Linked DNA regions of Homo sapiens: regions 2 and 3 are each linked to region 1. The links come from fine-mapping of genetic effects on gene expression. A gene starts in region 1. Each other region holds a variant in brackets. All regions are shown on one strand. Distances are from middle to middle.

Region 1 (8,328 bases):
GGCAAAGATCAGGCAAGGGCTGGCGGTTGCCTTCCTCTCATCATGGCCCCATGCTGGGGTGAGATGGGGCAAGGGAGCCCCTCCCCCATTCTCAGCAAGGCACCCCAGGTGCAGGCTTGTAGAGCAGCCTGGCCCCATGGTAGGACATTTAAGGGAGTGGCTGAAGCCCCAGGGCTTCAGCGTCCAGCCACGACCAGCAGCCTGCCTACTGGGTAGCAGGAAGGGAGCTGAAGGTAGGCAGGCCTCGGCAGAGGGCACTCAAGTCCTAGGAATCTGCACTCAGCCACTGCACACGTCTACTCCGTGGTTTCCCAGGGAAGCAGAGAACATGAATCTCGGTAACTCGAGCCCAGGGCATCATCACTCACTGCGATTGTGGGGGGGGTTGAGAGCCAGAGTGGATCAGTCTAAACAAAACACGTGCACAGGGGGCTCCTCCAAAGAGCATGATCGGCCACCACTGGGTGCCCCGTCCCTCACCCAAAGTAGCTGGGGAGGGGTGGGGGGACGAGGCCAGGGAGGGGGCTGGGAGTCTTGGGTTTCTTCCTGGAAATCCTACCCTCACCACCCACCTGTGAGCCAGTGGGAGACATGAATCTCGCTGGCAGGAACTCGGGCCAGCTCAGCCGTTTTCAGGGATGTTAATGAAATGCGGGAGCACTTGTCCTTTCAGACAGCGGCCCCTTTTATTTGGGAATGAAAAGCTGCATTAGTCTGAATGAGGTTTGGAGGCCTCATAAATCCGGCGCTGGCTGCCTCGTGGGGGAGCAGGGAGCCTAGGCCTGGCTGGTGGGTAGACTTGTTTACCAACAATGCGAAAAGCCAGGATTGGCGGCTCCCAATGCCCGGAGGAGATGCGGCTGGAGATAGTGCCAGCCCTGGTGCCTGCTGGTGGCGGGGCAGCCTGGAGAGGCATGTCATGCCACCGGCAGAGAGGGCTGTAGGTCTCTCTTCATGAGTTAGGGATGACTGGGCTCCCCGATCTGCCCTGATAAAGTGTCTGAGTATTCTGCTCTTAGCCTTCCACCGCAGGCAGCAGCCCCAGTGGGGCTCCACAAGAGTGATGAGAATTGGCCCCTGCAGCTTGTCCCCTACTCAGCCCAGATGGTAGAGGACAGGGTTAATTCTATGAGCTCAGGAGTCGGCTGAGCCTATATGTGAACCTTGACATCTCACCCACAGTGCCTGGCAAATGGTGATGCCCAATATGTTTTAGAAGAAAGTAGGAAGGAAGGGAGGGAAGGAGGGAGGGGAGGGGAGGAAGGGGGGAAGGGAGGGAGGGAAGGAGGAAGGGAGGGAAGGAGGGAAGGAAGGAGGGAGAGAGGGAGGGAAGGGGAATGGAGGGAAGAAAGAAAGGTCACATACCAGCGATGTGACTTTGGACCTCTTACTTAACCCCGCTGAGGCTCAGTCTTCATCTGTAAAATGGATTTGTTATTTTAGACAAAGATCCTATCGCAGTGGGTGTGGAGAGCAAGAGGTGAAGTGATGCGTGTAAGGTAGTGAATATATTGTCTGGAACATAAAAACATGTAATAAATACTAGGGGTCATTATGGGGATCGTTGCTGCTGTTTCTGTTCTTGCAATGCATCCCACCCTCCCCTAGACCGGGAGGGAACACGCTGCTGTTAGTTTTGGGGAAACCTCTGTGTCACAAAATGGCTCGCAGCCAGGTCAAGAAAAAGGCCCAGTCCCAGGCTGGCGATGGCAGCTTCCCTCTGGCCCCAACTTGGAAGGCAGGGTTCCAGCTGCCTTCCAAGTCCAGTGACTGGGCCCCACAGCCTCTGCAGCTGGGAGGCTCTTTCCCACCGCAGCCCTACGTGGCAGCAGAAAAAAGCCTCGATCCGCAGCGTGCTGGGTAACTCCCGCCCACTCTGGGATGCAGGAGGAGCAGGCCCAGCCTGTGCTGCTTCCCTGGGGCGCCGAGGGGGCTCGCAGGTGGCAGAGCCACACTCTCACCCTCTGGGGGCCTCAGCATCCCCCTCTGCCTTCCTCCCTTCGCGTTTCTAGCACCACTTTCATGCTAGCTTTTTTGGAGGCTGCTGCTTCTCCTCCTGCTCCCCTCCCCTTATCCCTCCCTTCCACAGGCCTTGGATCTGCTCCCTCCTGGGAGCCACACCTCTACCTTTCTGCTGCTTCTGTTTCTCTGCCAAGCCACTTGCAGGCTGACTGCAGGACAACCCAGGCAGAATTAGCATCCAGGCACTCCCCTTGCCTGTCCCCAGACCAGCCTTGGGCAATGCCGTTTTAGCCCTGTGTCCTTTGCCTCAAGTTCAGGTCCCTTTCCGTTTGTCTATCAGCGCACCGAAATTTTCTTCCTTAGAGAACAGCTAGGCCTTTTGGTTCCTTGGGGCAACCAAACCTGTTGCGGAAGCTGATAGGCAGGCGATGGGGAGGGGTGTGCGTCCCCAAGGAAGGGGCTCCCCCAGCTATATCCGGGAGGCCGCGCCCTCTGCTGCCCTCTCCTGCACTTCCTCCTTACTGGCGCCCACTGGAGCCCTTACTTTTTATCAAGAGGTGGCAGCTGCTGCTTCCCTAGCTTTGGTCTGCGTGTCCTTCCCTCCGATCCCTCGGGCAACATTTTCCAGTGGCTGCTTGGGAAACCAGCCGCTCCTGCTCCAGGGCGAGGGAGGCCCAACTTTGGCAGAGACAGACACTCAATAACCTCAGTTTGTTTGCTGGATTTTTGAGGATGTCCTCAGGACGGGCGCACCCCTCTGTGTTCTTTTGTGAGGAGCCCAGGGAGTCTCTCCTCCTCCCACAGCCACAGTGGCCTCCACCTCAGGTGGGAGGGCGTCCCTTCCTAATTGGCAGGATTGGCCACACTGAGATATTCACATCCCCACACAATGCCACGGGCCTCTGCACCCAGACAGGGAGGGGAAAAAAGAGGGAAATTAACAGGCGGGTGAGAGCTCGGCTCATAGAATATTTGTAAGAAAATTAAAGATTTGCTCTTCAGATGTTGGGGGCCATGCTCTTACCAGACAGCTGGCAAATGGGAAAGATTGGAAATGATAGAATAGATCAAATTATTTAAATGAGAAAAATAAATTCACACACAGCCTAGCCGCTGCCCGGTGACAGATCCGTTTATTTATCTACTGTATCGGCACCGCTTTGTCTCTGTCAAAAAGGTCATTAAACTCGCCTAACTGAGTAATTCGCAGCCTCCTGCTCCAGCCTCGCTCCACAGCCTTTCCCTTCCCTCACACCCAGCGCCACTTGAAAAAAAATTATTATTGCTAATAAACAACGTTGTTTTTCTTTTTAACCCCTTTAGCTTGCTCCCCCACGGATCCTACTCCATCCCACGACAAATTACAGTTTCTCTTTATTCTTTCTCAGGAGAATGAGGGAGGGGGCACCAGCCCTTCCTGCACAGTTACGGGAGAGGGCTGAGAGGGAGCGGGCCCGGCGCCCACGCCCCCCTACATCTAAGGCGTGAGCGGTCTTCCTCCTCCGCAGCCCCAGGACCTGTGCGCGGTCAAGTCCAGCTTCCCACAGCAGGGGGTCTGACTTGGGCTCTCCCACCTCTACCAACTCCCTCAGCTCCCCTGGCCCAGCGTAGACAATTCGCTTTGAATTCTGCCTCTCCGAACCCCCAGCCCCAACTCTGCTGCCAGGAGGAATGGGGTTGGGGAGGGAAGCCGGTTCCCGGGTCAGTCTCCCGCTGCCACCGCCGTCCAGCCAGCGCCCGCCGCGTGGGAGCCGCGAGGCCAGGCTCCGCAGACGGCGGGCTCCCGGTCTCGCTGCTCCCGGCGGGCGCGTCTCCTCCAGCTGGTCCGGCCGCTGGGCTGCCGCCGTCTCCCAGCTCGCGGTGCCAGCTCTCGCGCTCCACGCCTGGCTCCCGGGCTCCGTGCCCTCGCAGTAGAAGGGACTGGGGCCGGCGGGGCGGGTGGGGACGTCTGGGAAGCGAGGAGAGTCCTCGTTCTCCGGGCGTCCCCCTACAATGGGGCCAGGGTCCCCTTCCCCGCCCCCCGCGCAGGTGTGAGCGCGCGAGTGTGCGCCTCGGCAAGTGTGAGTGTGAAGTGTGTGTGCGCGGGGGAGTGCGCGGAGGGAGCGCGGGCGGCGGGCGGCGCGGGAGGCGGGAGGCAGGGCGCAGGGGAGGGGGCTGGGAGGGAGAGTGTGCGCGCGTGCAACTCCACTCCGGGGCTTTGTGCGAGCCCGGGCGATAGCATCGGCGGCGGCTGGAGGAGGAGCGGCCGGAGACGCGTGCAGCCCGCCCGCCAGAGCCCGGCAGCCGGGGCAGGTGGGAGCCCGCGCGGGAGCCGAGCCGACGCGAGTCGGAGCCGGAGCCGAGTCCGAGCGGAGTCCGGGCGGAGCCCAGGAGCCTCGCTCGCGGGCAGCCCGTGGGCGGCAGCCAGGCGGGGCGGGCGCCGGCGGGGCGGCCCCCCAGTAAGATGTGCGCGGCGCCGCGGGGCGCCCCCCACTTGCAGCGGCGCTCGGGAGCCGGGCGGCTGGGCCAGGCGGCGCCTTCGGGGCTGCTGCGCGCCCGCGCCTAGAGCTGCCGCCCCAGGGAGCCCGCCACGGCCGCGCCCCGGGCACGCTCGGCGGCGCCCAACGATGACCGCTCCCTGGCGGCGCCTCCGGAGTCTGGTTTGGGAATACTGGGCCGGGCTCCTCGTGTGCGCCTTCTGGATCCCGGACTCGCGCGGGATGCCCCACGTCATCCGGATCGGTAAGCGCTCCCTGGAGCCGGGGGTCTCCGTGCGCCCGGGAGGGGGCGGGAATGAGGGGGCCTCCCAACGCGTTCCGGAGAGATTTTCCTAACCTCTCTCCGAGCTGCTGAGCCGATCGGTGACCACCAGGAGCTCCTCCCTGTGAGGACAAAGTTCCAGAGTCGGGGTCACGGGCCTTACTTATTGGGGAGGAGGCCGCCGGGCCGCAGTGGGCGAGGGGCCCTTGGCGCGCTCCTGGGAGGTCAGACCTGGCACAGTGTGGCGAAGGTTTCCAGTGCGATCCCGAGTCGAGGGCGCATTTCGCGGTGACTGCCAGCATGAACCGCAGCCGACCGAGTTCTGCGATCGGGCTTCTCCGCAGAGTGGGGACCCTGGGGAAGGCGCCAACTTCTCTCCTCTGCCCACCTCACTCCCCGCGGGCCCTTCGTCCCCACCTCTGGCATAGCTCGAGCAGCCGCAGCGAGGTCGCAGGGCACAGATTCGCATGACGAGGGCAGCCGGTCTTCTCTCCTGGTGGTCGCCCTTGGCCTCGGTGGTACCGGTTCAGCCCCGTGCCATGGGGCGGGGGTTGGGGGAGCAGGACCCCGCTGCCCGCTGCAGCTGGTCCCTCGGGGCCAAGGCCTCTCTCCCGCCTGGGGCAGTGCAGGTAGAGGGAAGGGACGATGGAGGCCGCCCAGTGCGGCCCGGGCAGGCGGCCCAGGGACGCCAGCGGTTTTTAAAGTTAGCCCGAATTCCTCCGCAGCTGGCGGCGGCTGGCGGGGCTGCGCGCGGCTTTCCGGGGCTCCGGCTTCTCCGCGTCTCTTCTCGCCGGAGACTCTTACTCCGGTCTTTAACTTTGTTGTGGCCGCCCAAGGCACCCTGCAGGCCTGAGCGCCGCGCATGTCCCGGGCCGACGACCGGCAGGGCTGGGCCTGGCCGGGCTAAGACGGAGCCTCCATCACCGCAGGCCCTGCGCCCGCCACCAGGCCGGACACCTGGGCCGCCTGGGTTCACTCGGCGCCAGCACCAGCGCCTGGCACCAGGCGAGCCGGACTCCGCCGAGCCAGGGCCACCTTCCTCCTCTACAGCTCTTCTTCAGGGCGGACCTTGGGCTGCCAGCGGCGTGAAAGAGGTGCCGGAACCGGTGTCGGGCTTGGTTTCCGTACTTGAGATTTTCCTAGGAGGCGGTCAGAAACCCAGCGGGTGGGTCTCCTCCTGGGCGGCCGCCCGGGAGCCGGACCCTCTTGAACACCATCTGGATGGGGCAGAGCACAGTCCTCAGCTCTGCCCACGCTGAGATCTTTCGGTCCATGCCCAGGACCCTGGCAGGCAAACACCAGCACCGGAGGCAGAGGAGGCCAGGCACGGGAGGGGACACTGGGGACAACCCTTATGGTCAGGCTTAACCCTTTGCAGCCCAGCCTGGTTGCTCCTGACAACCGAAATGTCTTCTATCTCTGTGCCTTTGCCTGCCCCAAGCCCAGCCTGGCACCATTCCAGGGGCAGGAAGCCTCCCCTTCCCCCCCCAGTAATGGACCAGCACTTCCTTTATTCCCTGTCTCCTTCCCTCTGCTTTTTTGGGGGCCTGCGTCGTAGGGTGTCCTTGGGGAAAAAGGTGGGGGGACTGAGAGGGTGCTATTTGCCCATCGCACGGATTGCAGTTCCCTTTTCCTTGATCCTTCTTCCACAGGGGTGGGATGGGTGTGCTCCCAGCCCAGCCTCAGGGATGGAAGTCTTTGGAGGCCCAGAAGGACAGGCTACCGTAAGGGCAGCCTCAGAGGGATAAGCTGGGAAGGCGCAGGATGATGTATCCTTACTGTGAAATTGAATGGGTTAGGGAGTTCCTCCCAGCCCTTAGGAAGAGCATCCCCAAGCCTGCCCGCCCTTTCTTGGGTTCAGCGTGTAATAATGAAATTAAAGGATGGCAGAGCCCTCCTCTCTTCTAATCTTCTTCGTATTAAGCCCCAGGATTAATTAGCGTGTCAGCCCAGGTCATTTATATCCAAGAGCCCTGCCCCATTTGATTCTCAGCCCATGGACTGGGGTGTTGTGCCTGCGCCAAACGTGACTGCCAGAGCTGTGCCAGTTTGGGCGGAGGATGGGAGGACTCTGAGGCCTCTGGAGACTCCTGGGGAGCTGAGTTTCTGTCCTTCTGAGCCCCTGCTTGAACCCCAGCTGGAGCCAGGGAGCTACAGTGGACATGGACAGAAAGAGCGAGCGAGCGAGAGAGAGAGAATCTCATGCTAAAATCCAAACACACCACCTTGGCTGGGCCCAGTGCCCTCTCCCTTTTCCCATCCCCCCCATCCCTGGGATCTCAGGGTTCTGGCTGGGGCTTTAAGAATTTAGGCCCTCTGGAGTGTGCTAGGTGCTTCTGATTCTCAAGACTGGCACCTGAGCCGGCTGAGCTTGGAGCTGAATGCTTCTCCAGCAGCCAGGCATCGCCGAGCACCAGCCCGGAGAGGGCTTTCTTGCAGGTGCCAGAGGGGCTCTCTGGGCTGAGGAGCATCGTACCCACCCCCTCTCTTTGTGCCTCTTTTGGGGGCTGAAATTTCCTCTTAGACAAGGAGATGGATAGCTCAGCAGTGTGACAGAGTGTTCAAACAATCCGTCTTGAATAGATGAATTGCATTGCTCTGTCTTTTTGTAATTGTGTCTATCAGAAGGAGAGGTCAAGGCATTGATTGCTTGGATGGTTTGCAAGTAACAAAAGAGAGTGAGGGAGAGAGCAAGGGAGAGAGAATGATTGGATTGTAGTCTGCGAGAAAAAATGATCATTGATTATTTTATGTGAATATGTGGAAGATGTATTCTATGTATGATTATCAAATGTTGTGCATTGAAGGTTTTCAAGCCATATTGTTTGGCATTTTATTATTATTATCGTCGTTATTATTGTTTGGGTGAATCCCAGTCTTAACTTACGGAAGGCAGTTTAATGCATAGATTCTCTCAGCCAAACGGGCTTCAGTGACCTCCCGTGGGGACCTGAATTTCCAGGTTACCTGACCCCAAATCTGTAGTGGAGGGGCTGCTGGACTTGGAGCCAGGAGGTCTGGGTTTTCTGCTGCATCTGCCACCAGTTTGTTGGGCCATTTCCATCAAATCACACCTCTCCCTGGCACCCCAGGCCTCAGTTTCTCCATCTGTAAACTATTTGGTTGGCCTTAATGGTTGGTATGTTCTGTGGTTTCAAAGTTCCCTTTAGTGCAGGCTGGCGGGCACTGTTATGCCATTGTAGGTTTCATGGTTAGTTCTCTCCTCATGTTATGGGCATATGTAGGATTGAGGGCCAGCCTGGAATTTGAAAAGGGAACTAGACAGTGGTGGCAGCAGCTGGGGAAGCCTGGCCAGCTCTTCTGTGTGTTGAGGAGCTCAAGTGGATGGTGGCGATCTCCAGCCAGCCAGTGGGGAGGTTTGAAGCCAAATGACTGCAGAGACATAAAGCAGGTGTTGGGGGGGGGGAGGGGGTGGGGGGTGGGGAAAAGGAAGGGTTGGCCCAGCTCTGGACTCTGAGCATCTACAGATAGAGCAGAACTGAGCTGCAAGGTCCTGAGTTTCCTGAATATACAGGGGCCCAGCAGGCAACAGCAGCCGATCCCTGGGGAGAGACACCCCCTCCCTCAGAGTTCCCAAACCGGCCTCATCTGTAACTCCTATGACTG
Region 2 (8,000 bases), 170 kb after region 1:
CCCCAACCCACTGCCAGTCCCATTCTCAGCCCTGGGTGGGGATGTGGGGAGGGCTGCCCAGGGGTTCCCTGCTGATCACTAACACTCTGCTTTTCTGCAGGCCATGGCCATGGGCATGATGACTGAGTACTACCACTTCATCTTCACCACTCTGGTAATGTACCTCTGGGTCCTGGCACGGGAAAGGGGTGGGACTCTCATGGATCAAGTTCATTGTGGCTTAGCCTGGGCCAGCCCACTGAAGACAATTGCTGCAGCTTCCTCAGGCTGTAGGGGTGGCCCCAGGTAAGGGCACAAATATGTCTTTGTGACCTGCCCACTTGTGAGAGGCAGCATCATGTTATAATTAAGGATGTGAACTCTGGAGCCAATGTGAACACCAGCTCCTCTGCTCACCACTGTGGTTCCTTGGCTAAGGCACTTAACCTCCCTGCCTCAGTTTCTTCCTCTGCAAAATGGGCTTCTGCCTCCTAGGATTACTGTGAGCACCAAATGAGTTAATAAGGTAACACGCAGTGCCTGGTACATGAGGAGCTCTGGAAGTATTCACTATTATGATTATCATGGCCCTCGGTTCCTAGCCCACACTTCCCCACGCATATCTCGGGCCTCACGGGAATTGTCGCTTTGGATTCTGTCCACATTCATACTGAAGTCTGCCCACTCACTGTCAGCTAGCCCAGCCCACCTACAGGCTCCAGATGGGTCCTGTCCAAACTCTGAGAACATTTAGGGCCATTTAAACCCATTAGGATAATTAGCTGTGGCCTGAGTTCAGCAGAATAAAGAGATTCCTGTGCCAAAAGGGCACCCATCCTGAGCCTCACTGCCTTGCAGATAGACACCTTCAGACCCTGCTGGGGCCCTGGGCAGACTATTCCACCCATCCCAGGTCTGAGGTGAGTGACAGCCTCACTGACCATCCTGTCGCTTTTCAAAAAGCCTCCTGCAGTATGTGTCTGCCCAGCCACTGCAGCCCTGTAGGCCTCTAACCATATTCATTCATTTATCCAGCACCCAGCTAGCTCTCCCTACCCAGCATCTATGACCCCGTAGGTTCTGAGGGTCTGGTGGAAGGCGGGAAGTTTGAGGCAGTCTTACAGAAAACCAGATACTTGAACTAGGCCTCGAAAGATCCATAGGAGTTCACCAAGGGAGAAAGAGGAAGGACATTGTATGCAGAAGGAACAGCATAAGCAAAGGCCAAGAGGCAAGTTAGCTCTTCATGGTATGCAGGAGCTGGCTTGATCCAGCGGGCGAGAGCCAATTGCATTATCTCCTCCTAAGTCCATGTCATGTTGGTAGCTTGAAATCACTGTGACGGGAACGCTTACACAATGGAAGTGAGCAAATGCTACAAATAAGAGCCGCCTCCCCCAGAGAGCTGGTTATTAAGCACTTATCCTCCCTACAGTCCCTCCCTCTGCACCCTGTGCCCACAGCAGAGCTCAGGAGCCACCCTGCGATTCTCCTGATCCAGGGCTCAGACCTGGGGACCTGCCAGGAGCCATGCTGGGAGAAAGGGATCCTGGAAGCTGGCGAATGAGATCAGGCAGAGTGAAGCCAGCTCCCCTGAATCCCTTCTGGATTTCCGCCCACCTAAGCTGGCTTCTTCCTGCCATGCTGTCTCCTGGAAAGTCAAGGGAGGCTACCAGACCCCTGAAACTCTACCTCTGTCCAGAGCTGGGAGCAGGGCAGAGGAGCAAGACTGGGAAGGTGGGGTGGGGCACATTCCAGGGGTCCACAACTTTCTCCCCACTCATGGCAGCCCTCCCCATCCCATCCTGAGATCTTAGGGTGCTGAGAGCAACTCCTGGACCCGGGGACACTAGGATCCTCTCTTTAAGACCTTCGATCTTGACCCCAGTGGCCAATGGCATTAACGTGGAAGGTACTGGGGTCACTGGGGTGGTGCCTTCCCCAGAGTCTTGTCCTGGAAGGTCAGCCAGGCTGCAGGGCTGAGGGGCCAAAGCTTCAGGCCCTGCCATTTTACCAACTCAACGACCCCCCACCCCGGCCTTGGAATGAGGCTTGAGCCAGGCAGAGATGCTTTTAATAGGATATTTACGGCTGGGACTTGGAGCAAGGCCCAGAGGGGGTTTAATCACAAGCCCTGTGCAGACAGAGTGGGTGGCGAGGGCAGTACTCAGGGTGGGTGAAGGAGATAGGAAGATTTTGTTCCTGCTCTGACCCCAATTCTACTGAAACCTCCCAATGTCCCAAGGCTTTCTGCTTGGTGGCTCTATCTTATATTCTGTGTTGGATCCATCTCTGTACACCCCTCCCACCCAAGTGCCTAGCTCAGTGCCCAGGACCTTAGAGAGCATTCTTTCTCTCTACCCATGGGCAGACCTCAGCTGATTGGCCAAGAAGTAGTCGTCGTCTGTCCCAAGGGTGGTTTCTGCAATCTTGCTGGTGACACAACCCTCACCCTGGGAGCATTTAGCTATATGGGAGCTAGTCATTTATTTGTCACCAAGACTGGAAATTAGTGAGTGGGGATCAGGGATGCTAGACATTCTATGATGGGCAAGATTCTGGAGATGAGTTGTCCAGCCCCAGATAACTATGGTGCCCCATTGAGAAACATTGACTGATGCTCAGCCAGTCCACAATTGGATCTGGGAAAGTGGGTGATAATCAGAGAAAGAGATGGTGAGAAGAGGCAGAGGAGGAATGGATGGTCAACTGGGATATGATGTACCCAGGGTAGCTGTGGTGTGCTAAAGTCTCTAGGGAACAGAGACTAGCCCCGGCCAGTGTCCATTTTTCTTCATTTTCTTAATCATCCATTGATTCATTTATCCAGCAGCCATATACAAATGCTCTCCAAGGTCCTGGGCACTGCACTAGGCACTTGGGTGGGAGGGGTGTACATAGATGGATTCAACACAAAGCTCACAAGCTGGTGGCTTCCTTCATGTATATAAGAAACAAGAACTGTGCCCAGTTAACCTCTCTGTCCCCAGCACCCACATAGAAGCTGGCACATGGTAGGTGCTCATTAATGTCTGGATGGATGGACAGATGGATGGACAGACGGCTGGATGGATGGACGGATGGATGACTGCAATGCAATGTGGAAAGTAATCCGTGAAATTGTCAACACATCATCATAGCAACAGTTAGTTAAAACCACTCTGATCCCAGTTGGCCTGAGTTAGAATTGAGACTCTTCCACTCCCTTGGGCAAGTTACTTAACCTCTCTGTGCCTCATTTTCTCATCTATACAGTGGTGACAGTAATATTACTACCTCACAGGATTGTTACGCTGAGTGCATTGACGTCATAAAATGCTTAGAACAATGCTTGGCACTTATTACAGTGTAAGTGTTAAATAAACTAAACATCCTGCTTTTGTTTTCTGTGTGCTCAACATACCCCATCCCATCCAAAATTCAGAACAACTTTCCAAGGGAGATAGACTCTCCCAGTTTTATAGAAACGTGGAAACTGAGGCTCAAAGTCACTCTGCAAGAAAGGAGCAGAGCAAGGATTTTTTCGCAGCAGGGAGCTGTCCAGCTCCAAAGCCCTCTGCTGAAACCTATCATGCTGAAAGTCCACACCAAGTGTTCCCTGGCCTCCTCTGGCTGGCTCAGATTCCACACAATGCCTGACCATGTTGGTTCAGGTGTGGTAATTGAGGTCAATGGGGAAACGGAGCCTCCTGAAATCCCAGCAGCTCCCATGCTACACCAGTTCCAAAACCCTCTGATTTTAGGGCTGGACATTGTGGCTCACACCAGTAATCCCAACTCTTTGGGAGGCCAAGGCAAGGGGATCACTTGAGGCCAGTACAAGACCAGCCTAGGCAACATAGTGAGACCCTATCTCTACAAAAATAAAAATATTAGCCAGGCATAGTCGGGCAGGCCTGTAGTCCCAGCTACTTGGAAGGCAAACTGAGGCAGAAGGATTGCCTGAGCCCAGGAGTTAGAGGCTACCGTGAGCTAAGATTGTGCCGCTGCACTCCAGCCTAGGGGACAGAGCCAGACCCTGTCACTTTAAAAAAGAAAGCAAGAAGAAAGCCCTCTGACTTTCCTCTTTACACATTTGAGGCCAGCAACAGGGCACTTTGCACTCCCCATTGACTGGTGGGGAAACCTGGCATCAGGCACTTCCTGAAGTTTCATAGCAGATCAGTGACAAGAGGCCTTGGCTCCTGACTCCTGGTCCTGTCCTTGGCTGTTCCAGCTGACTGTCCTTCCTCCCCACACAATCTGAGGGTCGGGAAGAATGGACCCTTCCAGGGAGGCATAGCCCTTGCAATACACACAGTTCTGCAGTGGAGTATGGGGCGGGGTCTCCCAGAGTATCTCCCAGCAGAACCCCATCGGTTGGAGCACCAGCTGTGCTCCTGGTCCTCTCCCTCAGTCATATCCTGCTTCCGGTCTTCAGGATCCACTTCCGGCCCTGTTGCCGAGGCCTCTACCTCGTGATCCTCCCTCTTTGTGCCCATTGGTCAGTTGTGGCTTATTTGGGAGGACAGTGGCATCTGGCATTTATCTCCTTCCCTTTAGGAAACCCACATCACCAACTCTTCGCCTCTAAAAAAAATTCTCCAAATTTGCTTCTTCCATGCAGAAGATATTTTAATTACCCCAGCTGCCATTATCTGTTCCAACCAGCTTTGAGCCATTCCCAGATAACCTCGCATTAATCAGCCCCAGCTGAGCCCCTGGTACATGTCATGTGTAGGTAAAAGCCTGGAGGTGAAAAAAGAATTATAATAAATTAATAGATAAGCAATCACAATTAATGCCACTTCCTGGCAATAACAGTGATATCATGGGGAAGATA[T/C]TTTCATCTGTCATTCCTTAAGGCGATGTTTTCCAAGCTTCAGCTCCTACCCATTCAGACCCATGGGGTGCTAATGAATTAGTTTATTATGTTATGCTGAATGTTTCTAAAAGGTCCCTCGTCGATACTGAATTCAGTGTGTCAACATTTGGCATCGAGAACACAACTTTTTGCCAAGCAGCAAGGTTGCACACAGTTCACAGTGTACAGCACTTGGGGTCTTGGCCCTGGGCAGTCTGAATTAAAAAAAAAAAAAAAATGGAGCTGGACAAAAGAGCCTCTTCACCAGCTCCCCATTGTCATTGTCCTCGTATCACGGGGATGGGGGCACTCTGTGCCACAGGCCCTACAACACTTTGCAGCTAAGCCCAGGCTCAGGGGTTACAGGGAGGAAGGTCATCCCAATCACTACCACCCCAACCTGCCCCCTCCCGGGCTGTGATCAGCTGCAGCCTCTGTGTCAGTCTCAACAGACCAAATGCTGCCTCTGGAGACCAGAAGGGCTGGTTCCACCAGCACCCAAGCTCCCACCAAGGCCAGAGATGCTGCCCTTCACACTGAGTCAGGTTGGCCTCTGGTTACCTAGATGAGGGTAAATCGAGTCATGGAGGCCCTGGGCAGTCTAAAGCTTTGGCATCTTTCAAGCCTTAGATATCAGGTCAACACTGAATTGGAGAAGAGACTGAATGCCATGCAAGGAAAGGTGAGGAGGGCGCCCCCTGTAGGCAGAGCTCAGCTTCTCTTCCATGGTCGCAGCAGGTCAGCCCTGGCCCCAAACTTGCATAACACCACTGTCCAAAAGGAAATCCTTCCAGCTCCCCAGACCCTCCTGGTTGAAAGGCAGTTTGGGGAAGATCTCATCCTCCACCCCAGGCAGTTTACCAACCCTCTCCTAAACTTCCAGTCTGTAGATAACCCTGAGTTAATTAGCCCCAGCTGAGCCCCTGCTACATGTCACATGTAGATAAAAGCCTAGAGGTGAAAAAAGAACTATTATAATAAGTTAATAGATAAACAATGACAACTAATGCCACTTCCCGGCAATAACACTTATATCATGGGGAGGGTATTGGGTTGGTGCCATTAAAATAATAACAAAAACCACAATGACTTTTGCACTAACCTAGTATTTTCATCTGCCCTTCCTTGAAGCTGCCCCTGAGAGGAGGATGTGAAACACTTGTCGCTACATTCCAGGCTCTTCTCAGTGATGCTTAAGTGCCCCAGGAGCCACTCAGCTGGCTGACCCTTCTTTCCACTTTGGGTAACAGGAATATTCAGCCCATAGCTCATAGGGGAGACAGACCCAGACACAAGCAGTTGTTACCAGTGGCATGAAAGCCCAGAAGTCTCAGGATAAGAGCAGAATCGCGTCTGACGCACTCTGTTGTGCATGTGTACAGGAGCAATCAGGAGGGGCTTCCTGGAAGAGGTGATACTTGAGCTGATTCTTGGAGAATAGCTCACCCAAGAGAGGTCAAGAAGACAAGCATTCTTGCCTGGAAATAGAAGGCATACAAAGGTGCTGAACAGAGGGACGAGAAGCAGGACAAAGGGTACAGGGGCCAGCGAGACTGGGAAAATTAAGGCCTGAACTTGCATCCTGGGACAAAAAAATTGAGAGGGTAGGAAGGAAAGTGAGCCTGGAGGGGTGGAGAGCTTTGGAAAACTGTACTAAGGAATTTGTACCATATTCTGAAAAGACTACAAGGAGTCATGGAAGTATTTGAAGTGTGGAAATGACAGGCTTGGATTTATACCTTAGAAAGATCCCTCTAGTCCCTGCCCAGAGGGTGACTGCCCTGGCAGTGGGCATGAGTTGGGGGCTGGGCAGGTAGAGCCTCTCGGTAGGAGGAGATGCGTCATCATAGGGAAGAGGGAGGGCTCTGGAGCTGGGTAGCCTGGTGTTGACTCTGTCACTCCCCAGTTACAGAACCTTGAGCAAAAGGCCTAATATCTGTGTGGTTCAGTTCTTTCCTCTAAAATGGGGTGATAATAACACCATCCTAGTCGTGTGCCCATGTGAATCAATGAGTTAATACAAGTAAGGTACTTTGAACAATGCCTGCCATTCTGAGATTTGTAGGTGCTCAGTAAATGTGAGCTGACTTTGCTTGTTCTGATATTGCCAAGACGAGTAAGGTAGGAAGACACCAACCTATGTCTGCCCTGGGGGCTGTATGTACCCAGTAGCTGTCACAACCTCCTGCCAGACGAGGCAGAACATAAACATGTGTCAAACACATACATGATGTTTGATATGTCCCAGACATGTTCTAAGGGCATCTACAAACTCACTTATTTTCCTTGACAACTCTATATGGTAGGTGGCACTTTCAACCCCATTTTGCAGATGAGGCAACTGAGATGAGGAGAGAGGGTGAAACTCGAGCCCAGGTGGTCTGGCCCATGTCTGGCCACCTCAGGGAGCCGCCCTGGAGGAGCTGAGGGAGGGAGACTTCTTCTGGGATATTTATTCTCTCCCCTCTTTGCTGCCCTTCTCTGATTCGAGAGGCATCCTGATCTAAACCCAGACCCATCTGTGTGTGTTTCTCAGTCACGAGTAATCGCTTAGTGGCTTCTCAAAACACAGACTCCAGGCTCCACCACAGACTATGCATCAGCGTTATCTAGGTGTGGTTCATATTCTAGAAAAATAAAATCCCCAAAGACAGCTCTGATGCATGTCTTGTCCTGGACACCCACCGAGGACATAGAACATAGAGGGTTTGGAGTAAGACAATCAACGATGCATCAGTCAATGTTTAACAACCAGCTCTCTGAAAGGGAGAAAAAAGACAAAACACAGAAATCCTGATTTGTAATGCCTGCAAATGTCCATGGTACAAATACTCCTACCATGGCCAATACCAAGCTAGCCATGTAATGTCACTGAAGGCAGAGTTGGGAAGAAATGCTAACATTCAGCTCCCACTGGCCAGTGTGAGCCAGTGGCAGCACACCATTGAAATAGACCTGGGTACAAATTCAACTTTGACTTGTATGAGCTATGTGACCTTAGGTAAGTCACCTCACCTCTCCAACTCTCTTTTCTCATCTATAAAAATAGAATAGAGTGCTATTCAATGCCTACTTCACAGGGGGCTGTGAAGATGAAGCCATGGAGTCCTTGTGCAGGGCTGAGCACTGCCACCCCCCACTCCCTACTGACACTGGGGCCACAGAGACACCCTCTGGC
Region 3 (8,000 bases), 150 kb after region 1:
GGTCCGAGCATGGCCTCCTTGGGGAGAGGGAACTGAAAAAAGAACTAGTCCTAAATTTGACAATTCACCAGCAAACCCAGAGTTCCTGTTTTTAAAGCATTTATTATCACTGTGGTTTGTCTCACACACCTGCTCACACCAAGGGCTACCCAAGGCATGTTGACTCAAAGGTGACAAGAGCAGGAACAAGATGGTGCTTCCCCGACTTGGCTCCCAGTCCCAGAACTACAGAAGCACCAGGAGGATGCCATGCCCCCGTTGTATGTGCTCTCCTGCACCTGGCCTTGGCCACAATGAATCCTGGGTTGCCCAGGAGATACCCTCTGTACTGGCACTGCTGCTGTTCTGCCCCGTGTTACAGGGGGCTCCAGCAGACCCCTAACAAAAACTAGCCAGCTCATCACATTGCTATATCTTTCACCTTGCCCTTAAGTGGCAATCTCTGGTGTTCCTGGTAGAAGTACAGATTTCAGGAAAAATAACTTCTTTATATAAAATCTCCCATTTCCAGGAGGCAGTGGGAGTGGTGGATGTGAGTCAACAGGAAACACAACCCAAGACCACATATTCTGATGGATTCAAAACTACCCTGTACCTCTGGATCAATCTGGATCAATCTGGACCATCCTTAAGCCCAGGCGAGAGGGACCCTTTCCCAGGGCCTGTGCTTTGATGTCTTGCCCTCTGCCTCCTCTGGTTGGCCTCTCCTCCCGGGACAAGGAGTCAGTGGGACCAGGGGACATACCCACCAGGAGCCTGTGCCCTGCCCTTCCAGACTTTCCTCTAAGGATCTAGAACCCTGAATTTCCTGCCCACTTGCCCCTGAGCCCACTTCTAGGACATGCGTGGGCCTCTTCCTTGGGTCTGTCTTCCAGAGGGAAAGCCATACTTGCAGGAGGTGCACTTTTAGGCCCTAAGGGTGACCAAGGGGCAGCTGTTTGCAGTGGGTGTAGACAGTGTTTGGACATAAGGGCTGGGGTTTCCACAGAGAATGCAAGGCCCCTTATGGTTCAGGATGGAGCCAGTGGTAAAAGAGAAAGGGGGAGAATGGGGTCCTGGTGCTACCTCTCCCCATGTCACTGTGTAGGAGAAGTCTCCATTCTCACCTGACTTTCCAGATTGTGATGAAGGTACATTTGTCAAGGTAAGAGAAAAGGACGTGTTTCGTTTAACAGTTTTTTAGCTTGACTAACAGCATGTAACTATTTAGCCGTATGGTATGTAGGCTTCCACTTATACTCTGGCCCTGGGCCCTGCAAATCTTAGGGGTAGGCCTGTGCCCAGTGGGTCATTCCCAGAGGCCCTTGAGACAGCCAGGCCTCAATACACTGAATCCAGTGTATTCATTCCTGCTTCGGTGCTCTGTCCTGCCTCCTCCTGTGTGCATCAGATGTCATATGTGTGCACATAGTGTCATTCCCCTGTCCACAGGTAGGTGAGCTTGCTCATGCTCTGTTGGTGGATCTCCGATGGTTGCAACTGGCGGAAAACTAAAACCTAAATGGCGTAAGTCTTGGTTCATGCAAATTCTAAGTCCAGGGTTTTGCCTGGTGGGCGACTCCTGTGTTTTCTCTCTCTTGGCTCTGCTCAACCCACACTGACTATGTTCACAGACAGGCGCCCCTCTTTATGAGCACAAGATGGCTACTGCAGCTCCAGCTGTTACTTCCTTGAAGGTTCACTTAAAGAGGGAGGTGCCCCTTTCTCAGTCCAGTGGATCTCATGGCATCCCACTGGCTCTGACTGGCCCACAAATGTCCTCTAAACTCATGGCTGTGAACTAGGAAGGTCAGTGAGTGGTTTTCTGGGTGCGAGCCGCATTCTCTGCACCAATGGGTTGACAGTGGAAAAGAGGGGTGAAGCCCCAAGGAAAATTAGAGACAGTTGAGAAAAGAAGAGAGAATGGCTTCTGGGGAGCTCTCCCACCTACCCCAGAATGACTCTAAGAGGTCCCCTTTCTATGGATCTTTTAGGCAGAATCCCCCATTTTGAGCCCCAGCTGCCCTGGGTCTGCTCATTTGATGCTCTGTTGTGCCCACTGATGTTCTACCATCCCAGGCCGGTGGAAAGCATCTGCTGCCTCACCTGCCTGAGTTTTTGGACCTCTGCAAGAACCTGAACTGTTTGAAGGCAGGGATTCGGCATTCATTCAACATTCAGATGATGATTCGGCACTGTCGATACAGCAGTAAACCACATAGATCAAGGCCCTGCCTCTTTGGAACTTACATTCTACTGGGAGGAGAAAGTCAACCAATGGACAAGACTTCCAGTGATCATTTAATAAAGAAGGAAATAAACAGGGCATGGGGGGACAGGGATTGTGATTATAAATTGTGCGGTGAAGGCCTCCCTAGTAAGACACAGACACAGAGGCCTCAAGGAGGAGGGGGAGGGAGTCTTGAGGCTCTATGAGGGAAGAGCATTCCAGCCAGAGAGGACAGCACGTGCAAATAGGCAGGAATGCACTTAGCATGTTCAAGGAGCATCATGGAAGCCAGAGGAGCTTGAATGCTTTGAGGGAGGGAAAGAAGGATGGGAGACGAAGTCAGAAAAGTGGCGGTAGGGACAGGGAAGGGAGGAGCTACAACAAGCAGGATCTCTGGCCACTGCTATGACTTTGGCTTTTGCACTGAGGAGCCCTTGAAGCAAAGGAGTGACGTAATCTACCTTATACTGTGGAAGTCTCACCCTGGCTGCTGAGTGCAGAATAGACAGGAGGGAGGATGACTGAGGAAGCTTCTGCAATAATCCAAGCCAAAGATGATGGCGGCTTGGACCAGGATGGGAGTCGGGGCTGGGAGTGGCGGGAAGTGGTCAGGTTGTGATGTATTTTGCAGGTGAAGCCACAGGAGTTGTTGATGAATTGGGGTGTGGGATATGAGTGAATGAGAAGAATCAAGACAGAACCATGGTTTTTGGCATATGGGTCCAGGGACAATGGAGCTGCTGTTTATGGAGGTGAAGGAGGTTGGGACAAGAGGGGATCCTGTGCTGGACATGTCAGATCTGATATGCATGTCAGATATCCAACTGGTGATGTTGAGTAAGAGGTGAGATGCACAGGTCCGGGGTAGGGAACAGGCCGGGCTAGAGGTTGAAGTTGAAGCACCATCAGCCAGTTTGATTCTATTTGTTTCTCAAGTCCCCCAAGAACAGAACCTGGCACAGAGATGGTGATGCTAATCCCAGGATGGTAACATTGAATGTGGTGATCACTTTTGTCATGGGCACTTCCTAAGGAAAAGGGACGTACCCTGGCACTGTGCTCCAGTCTCCCACAACCATGTCTTTCCACCTTCATGTGGTCTTGCAAGGCAGGGACTGTTAGAACCCCTGTTTTCAGATGAGGAAACTGAGGTTCAGAGAGCTCATCCATTGTGCACCCACCGAGGGTTCCAGTTGCTGTTTTTCCCACATGTTTACAGGATCATCAGCATCACTGTCCCCATACCCACAGCCCCAGTGCTGACCCCTGTGCTGCCCTACCCTCTGTTGCAGCCTGTGACCAGCTGGCACTGGGCGTGGTGGCGATCTTCGGCCCATCACAGGGCTCCTGCACCAATGCCGTCCAGTCCATCTGCAATGCCCTGGAGGTGCCCCACATCCAGCTGCGTTGGAAGCACCACCCGCTGGACAACAAGGACACCTTCTACGTGAACCTCTACCCCGACTACGCCTCGCTCAGCCATGCCATCCTCGACCTGGTCCAGTACCTCAAGTGGCGGTCAGCCACCGTGGTCTATGACGACAGTACAGGTGGGTGGCCAGGCCTGGCTAGGCTGGGGGCAACGGTTGAGGGGGGCAGAGGCCCAGGATCAAGCTCTTGTCTGTTTGTTCAGCACAGCTGCCCTGGGGGAAGAGGCTGTGTTCCATACCCCAGTTCCACTCGGTTATGCTGATGTTCACCCCTGCACCCACTCACACCCTGTGCACCCCAGCGGCACTCATATCTCACTCAGCCCCAGCGCACCTCACCCCTGCCTCACACTCAGCTCCTCCTCTAGCAGCACAAGTGTTCAAATCTGCACTGAACACCCACCCTAGCAGCAGCACACACATCTGCAAGCCACACCGACACCTGCCCATGCCCTTACGCTCACACATTTCCATCTGCTGCAAACACATCCACCCTCACACTTGCACACTCACACA[C/T]ATAGCTTATGGCGTGGCCTAGTGTTAAGTGTGTACACACTGGAGCCAAACCACCTGGGTGTAAATCCCATCTCTATCACCTGCTGGCTGAGTAGCCTCTTTGTGCCTCAGTTTCCTATAAAATGTAAATCTGTAAAATGTGGGATTACAAGATGACAGTGACAAGCACTGACATGCAGTGAGCGCTGAAGGTTGGTTCTTCTCATCCTCCTCACACCTTCACCCGCCACACACACACTCTTCTCTACCCACACTCACACACAGACACCTGCACGTGCCCAGCTCTGCTCGCACACACACCAGCCCCTGCCATACCCACTTGACCGCTGACCCCAGCCAGTGCCAAGCTTGCAGACGTCAGCACCAGGCTGTTGTCTCATCCTGCCAGGACAGAAAGAGGAGATGGGCTCTGGGGCCCGTGGCTATGAGCTGCGGGCCCAAAGCTGGGCTCCCTGATGTGGCTGCACCTGTCCCACATGCTCTGCCAGCTAGAGCTAATGCTGCCCACATTTTTCTGGGTAGGACCCACCTGACCCACTCCTGCCCTGCCTTCCAAGTCCAGCCTGGGCTCTGCCTTCCAGAAAACCCTTGCTCCAATGTGATACCCCCTGCCTCTCAAGTCCCAGGCCCTTAGAGAGGGCCCAGAGCACACACCTAGCAGATAACCACCAACAAACCCAGCAAACGCACTCTGGCTTTTCCTTTGGATCTCATTCATTGCTAGGAGCTGGAGATACTTAGATAAACAAAACCCACTCTTTCTGTCACCCAGGCTAGAGTGCAGTGGTGCCACCACAGCTCACTATCACCTCGACCTCTGGGATCAAGAGATCCTCCCACCTCAGTCTCCCAAATAGCTGGAACTATAGGCATGCAGCACCACACCTGGCTAATTTTGTATTTTTTTGTAGAGCCAAGTTCTGGCTACGTTGCCCAGGCTGGTCTCCAACTCCTGGATTCAAGCAATCCTCCCACCTCAGCCTCCCAAAGTGCTGGGATTACAGGTGTGAGTCACCACACCACACCAAAACTCAGTTCTTGGTCTTGGCAAGCACTACATTGTAGGGAAACACAAACGGGACAACATAGCCATCTGCATGAACAGAGCCATCTCCATGTAGCTCTATGTACAGAGAGCTAATGGTCTGCCATAAGTCACAAAAAGAGCAAGCAGGAAAGGGAAAAGGGAGAGAAGAGCCACTGAGGGCACTGACCGCTGCCTGGTCCCTGCCTTCATCCTTAAGTCATCCTTGTGAGGATGTGTGGGGCAGGGACAGACCTGGAGAGTCCCCTAGAGATGGAATTCATACATGCTTCTGGATTCATCTGCTAAAGAAGGCTACTGTTTACCTGCTGCGAACCAAGTGGTGCAAGTGTGATCTTATTTCATTTCATGTAAATCTCATAGTAACTCCCTGGAGCGATGAATTAGAAATGAGGAAACTGAGTCCCAAAGAGGTGACATGCCCTGTGCACTGTCACCCAGCTAGTGAGTGCCAGAGCCAGCATGCACCTACAGGCCTGTTTGAGCCTAAAGTCTGTGCTGCTAGCCAGCATGGAGCTGTTTCTTCTCCTCTTTCTTTCCAAAGGCTTGAGTCCCAAGACATTTCTTAGCCTGGCCTCTTAAGAGAGAGTGACCTTGGCAAGTCACTTAACCCATCTGGCCTTGCTCTGCCCACATGTCAAGAGCTGCTGCATCCAGCCTTGAAAGAGCCCTCCAGCTCTCAGCTGCCTGTGATTCAATGTCAGCTTTTGATTACCTCCTAATGGGGACTGGAAATAGTAGGGAGAGACTCCCTCAGAAAAGACAATTGGAAAGCTGTTTATTTAACTCAGGCTTCTACAAGCATCTATTGAGTTCCTGCTATTTCCAAAGCACCCGACAGAAGATCCTTGAGAGCAGGGATCCCCAGCCTGGCTTATTCACCCCAGCATGAAGACCTTGCCATTGAGGGGCACTCCTGCCCACCTCCCAGCCACTCCAGTGTTTCTGCTGCATTGTGGAGTTGTTTCTTAATGTACCACTGTGAATCATTATCTGTCTGTGAGTCTGTGTCTGCTTCCAGGCCAGGAGCTTTCAGTGTCTCCAGGATTTAACACAGGGTCTGGTACAGTGTAGATGTTTTTCATTGTTTGTTGGCACTGAGTTGGATTGGACTGGATTGGATTAGTTTGGATTGAATTGGAAATCAAGTTGAATTAAACCCTAATTAAATATTGAAGGAAAGAGTATACGGGTGAAGAAACAAAGATGTTGTTATCCTGTCTTCTTTTGAAAAGTTAATCTTAGCATAGAAGAATGGGTGCCTGCCCAGAGGTCACACATAATTCTAGGCCATCAGAGCTAAGAATGAAATGGCATATACATTTAGTCAGAGCCAGACCACTTGGGGAATGGAAGCTCTATGGCCTTGGCTGGTCTGAGCTGACTTACCAGAGGAGGAGAGATTGGAGCAGGATAGGTGAATGAGGAGAGGATAGATGAATGAGGAGAGGAATCATGAGGGAATTACAGGTGGAGGGAACAGCATGAGCAAAAACTAGGTTGGACTGTACCTAGCAGCTTAACCAAGAGGACAGCCTGGCTAGGGGAGAGGATTCAGGTATGGAAGGTGGGAAGAAAAAGTCAGATTAACAGAGTGTAGCTGGCTATGCAAGGTCTCTGATGTCCAGCCTCAGAGTTCAGGTTTTATCTTTAAAGCAGCCAAGGATCATTGAGTATTGCTGAGCAAAGGCGTAGAATAATCAAAGCAGAGTTTTAGAAGGTGGTTCTAAGAGCAATGCACAGGGAGGGTTGGAAGGAGAGCCTAGAGCAAGGAGACTAGAGCACAGCCGACTGCACTGGTCCAGACAGGAGCAAAGGAGGCCAGAATTCAAGGGGTGCTTGGAAGAGAACATGGGGCCAGAATGGAAGAGAAGAAAGGGATGTGAACAGGGTAATGTTGAAGACATGTAACTGGAATGTCATGGGTACAGAGTGTCAGAGCAGACACTGACATAGTCTAGGTGGAGGGTGGAGGAAGTGGCTTTGCAGAGGAAAAGGTGCTTTATCATGATGATGGATACCATGCTAGCAAAACTGGCCAGAGCTGATGCTCAGGTCTGCAGCTCTTACCCACAAGTGCCTTTAGCTCTGACTATAAGTACACGTCACTTCATTCTCAGCTCTGATGGCCTGGAATTACCTGTGATCACTGGGCAGGTACCCACTCCTCTGGAATACAATTAACTTCTCAAAAGGAGATAGGATAGCAACATCTTCATTTTTTTATCCTTATACTCTTTCCTTCAATATTTAATTAGAGTTTAATTCAACTTCATTTTCCATTTGATTCAGTTAAATTCAACTCAATTCAGTTCAACAAATATTTAAAACATAGGGGAGTCAATGGGTCAGTGAGTTTGATCAAGAAGACAATGAGCACTAGGGGCTCAGGTTTGGCTTCAGCCAAATAATATAACTTTGATGATGTATAGTGGGTAGAAAGAAGTGTGCTCCCAGAATCCAGATATGTCAAAGGGCAGGACAATGTATGGGTCATCAAACCCATGGAGTGGGAAATACTCCACAGTGGGCTTTGGCTGTGTTTGCTTTGGAGATTGTGTCCATCAGGATGTTTTGGCTGCAAGTAACAGACAGCCCAACTCACATTGACTCAAGCAATAAACCGTTATCTCACTGACAAGAATTCTGGAGATGGGCCTTTCCTGGGATGATTTAGCAGCTTGACAAAGTCAGGGTGCTGGGTCAGTATTGCCACAGCTCTCTTGGCCTTCAGCTCATAGTCACAATAGGGCTGCTGAAGCTCGGAGCATGCAGTAGGTGGCATACAGAAGGTAGAGGC

Alleles and levels. Positions count from the first base shown, and alleles are read on the strand shown. Sizes are in standard deviations (SD) of each study's normalised expression.
For the expression in esophagus muscle of the gene that starts at base 4,162 in region 1, allele T in region 2 goes with a higher level than allele C (moderate effect, 0.65 SD a copy in GTEx).
For the expression in transverse colon of the gene that starts at base 4,162 in region 1, T is the low allele of the variant in region 3 and C is the other (moderate effect, 0.59 SD a copy in GTEx).

What was found.
Region 2: its variant is fine-mapped to the expression of GRIK3 in esophagus muscle (GTEx, PIP above 0.99). The same link has a PIP of 0.9 or more in atrial appendage, esophagus mucosa, gastroesophageal junction, sigmoid colon and tibial nerve.
Region 3: its variant is fine-mapped to the expression of GRIK3 in transverse colon (GTEx, PIP above 0.99).

Annotation. Positions count from the first base shown.
Region 1 is chr1:37,030,349-37,038,676 of GRCh38, reverse strand. GRIK3 (glutamate ionotropic receptor kainate type subunit 3) reads left to right here and starts at 4,162. Exons shown (of 16, transcript NM_000831.4): 1 at 4,162-4,683. The coding sequence starts at 4,569. RefSeq lists enhancers at 105-665, 2,911-3,471, 3,472-4,033, 4,608-5,507, 5,508-6,407.
Region 2 is chr1:36,861,902-36,869,901 of GRCh38, reverse strand. It overlaps GRIK3 (glutamate ionotropic receptor kainate type subunit 3), which reads left to right. Exons shown (of 16, transcript NM_000831.4): 5 at 101-154. Among named protein-coding and RNA genes, the nearest start is that of GRIK3, 170 kb to the left of the region's middle. The variant T/C (reference allele first, on the strand shown) is at 4,802.
Region 3 is chr1:36,876,393-36,884,392 of GRCh38, reverse strand. It overlaps GRIK3 (glutamate ionotropic receptor kainate type subunit 3), which reads left to right. Exons shown (of 16, transcript NM_000831.4): 3 at 3,502-3,759. Among named protein-coding and RNA genes, the nearest start is that of GRIK3, 150 kb to the left of the region's middle. The variant C/T (reference allele first, on the strand shown) is at 4,156.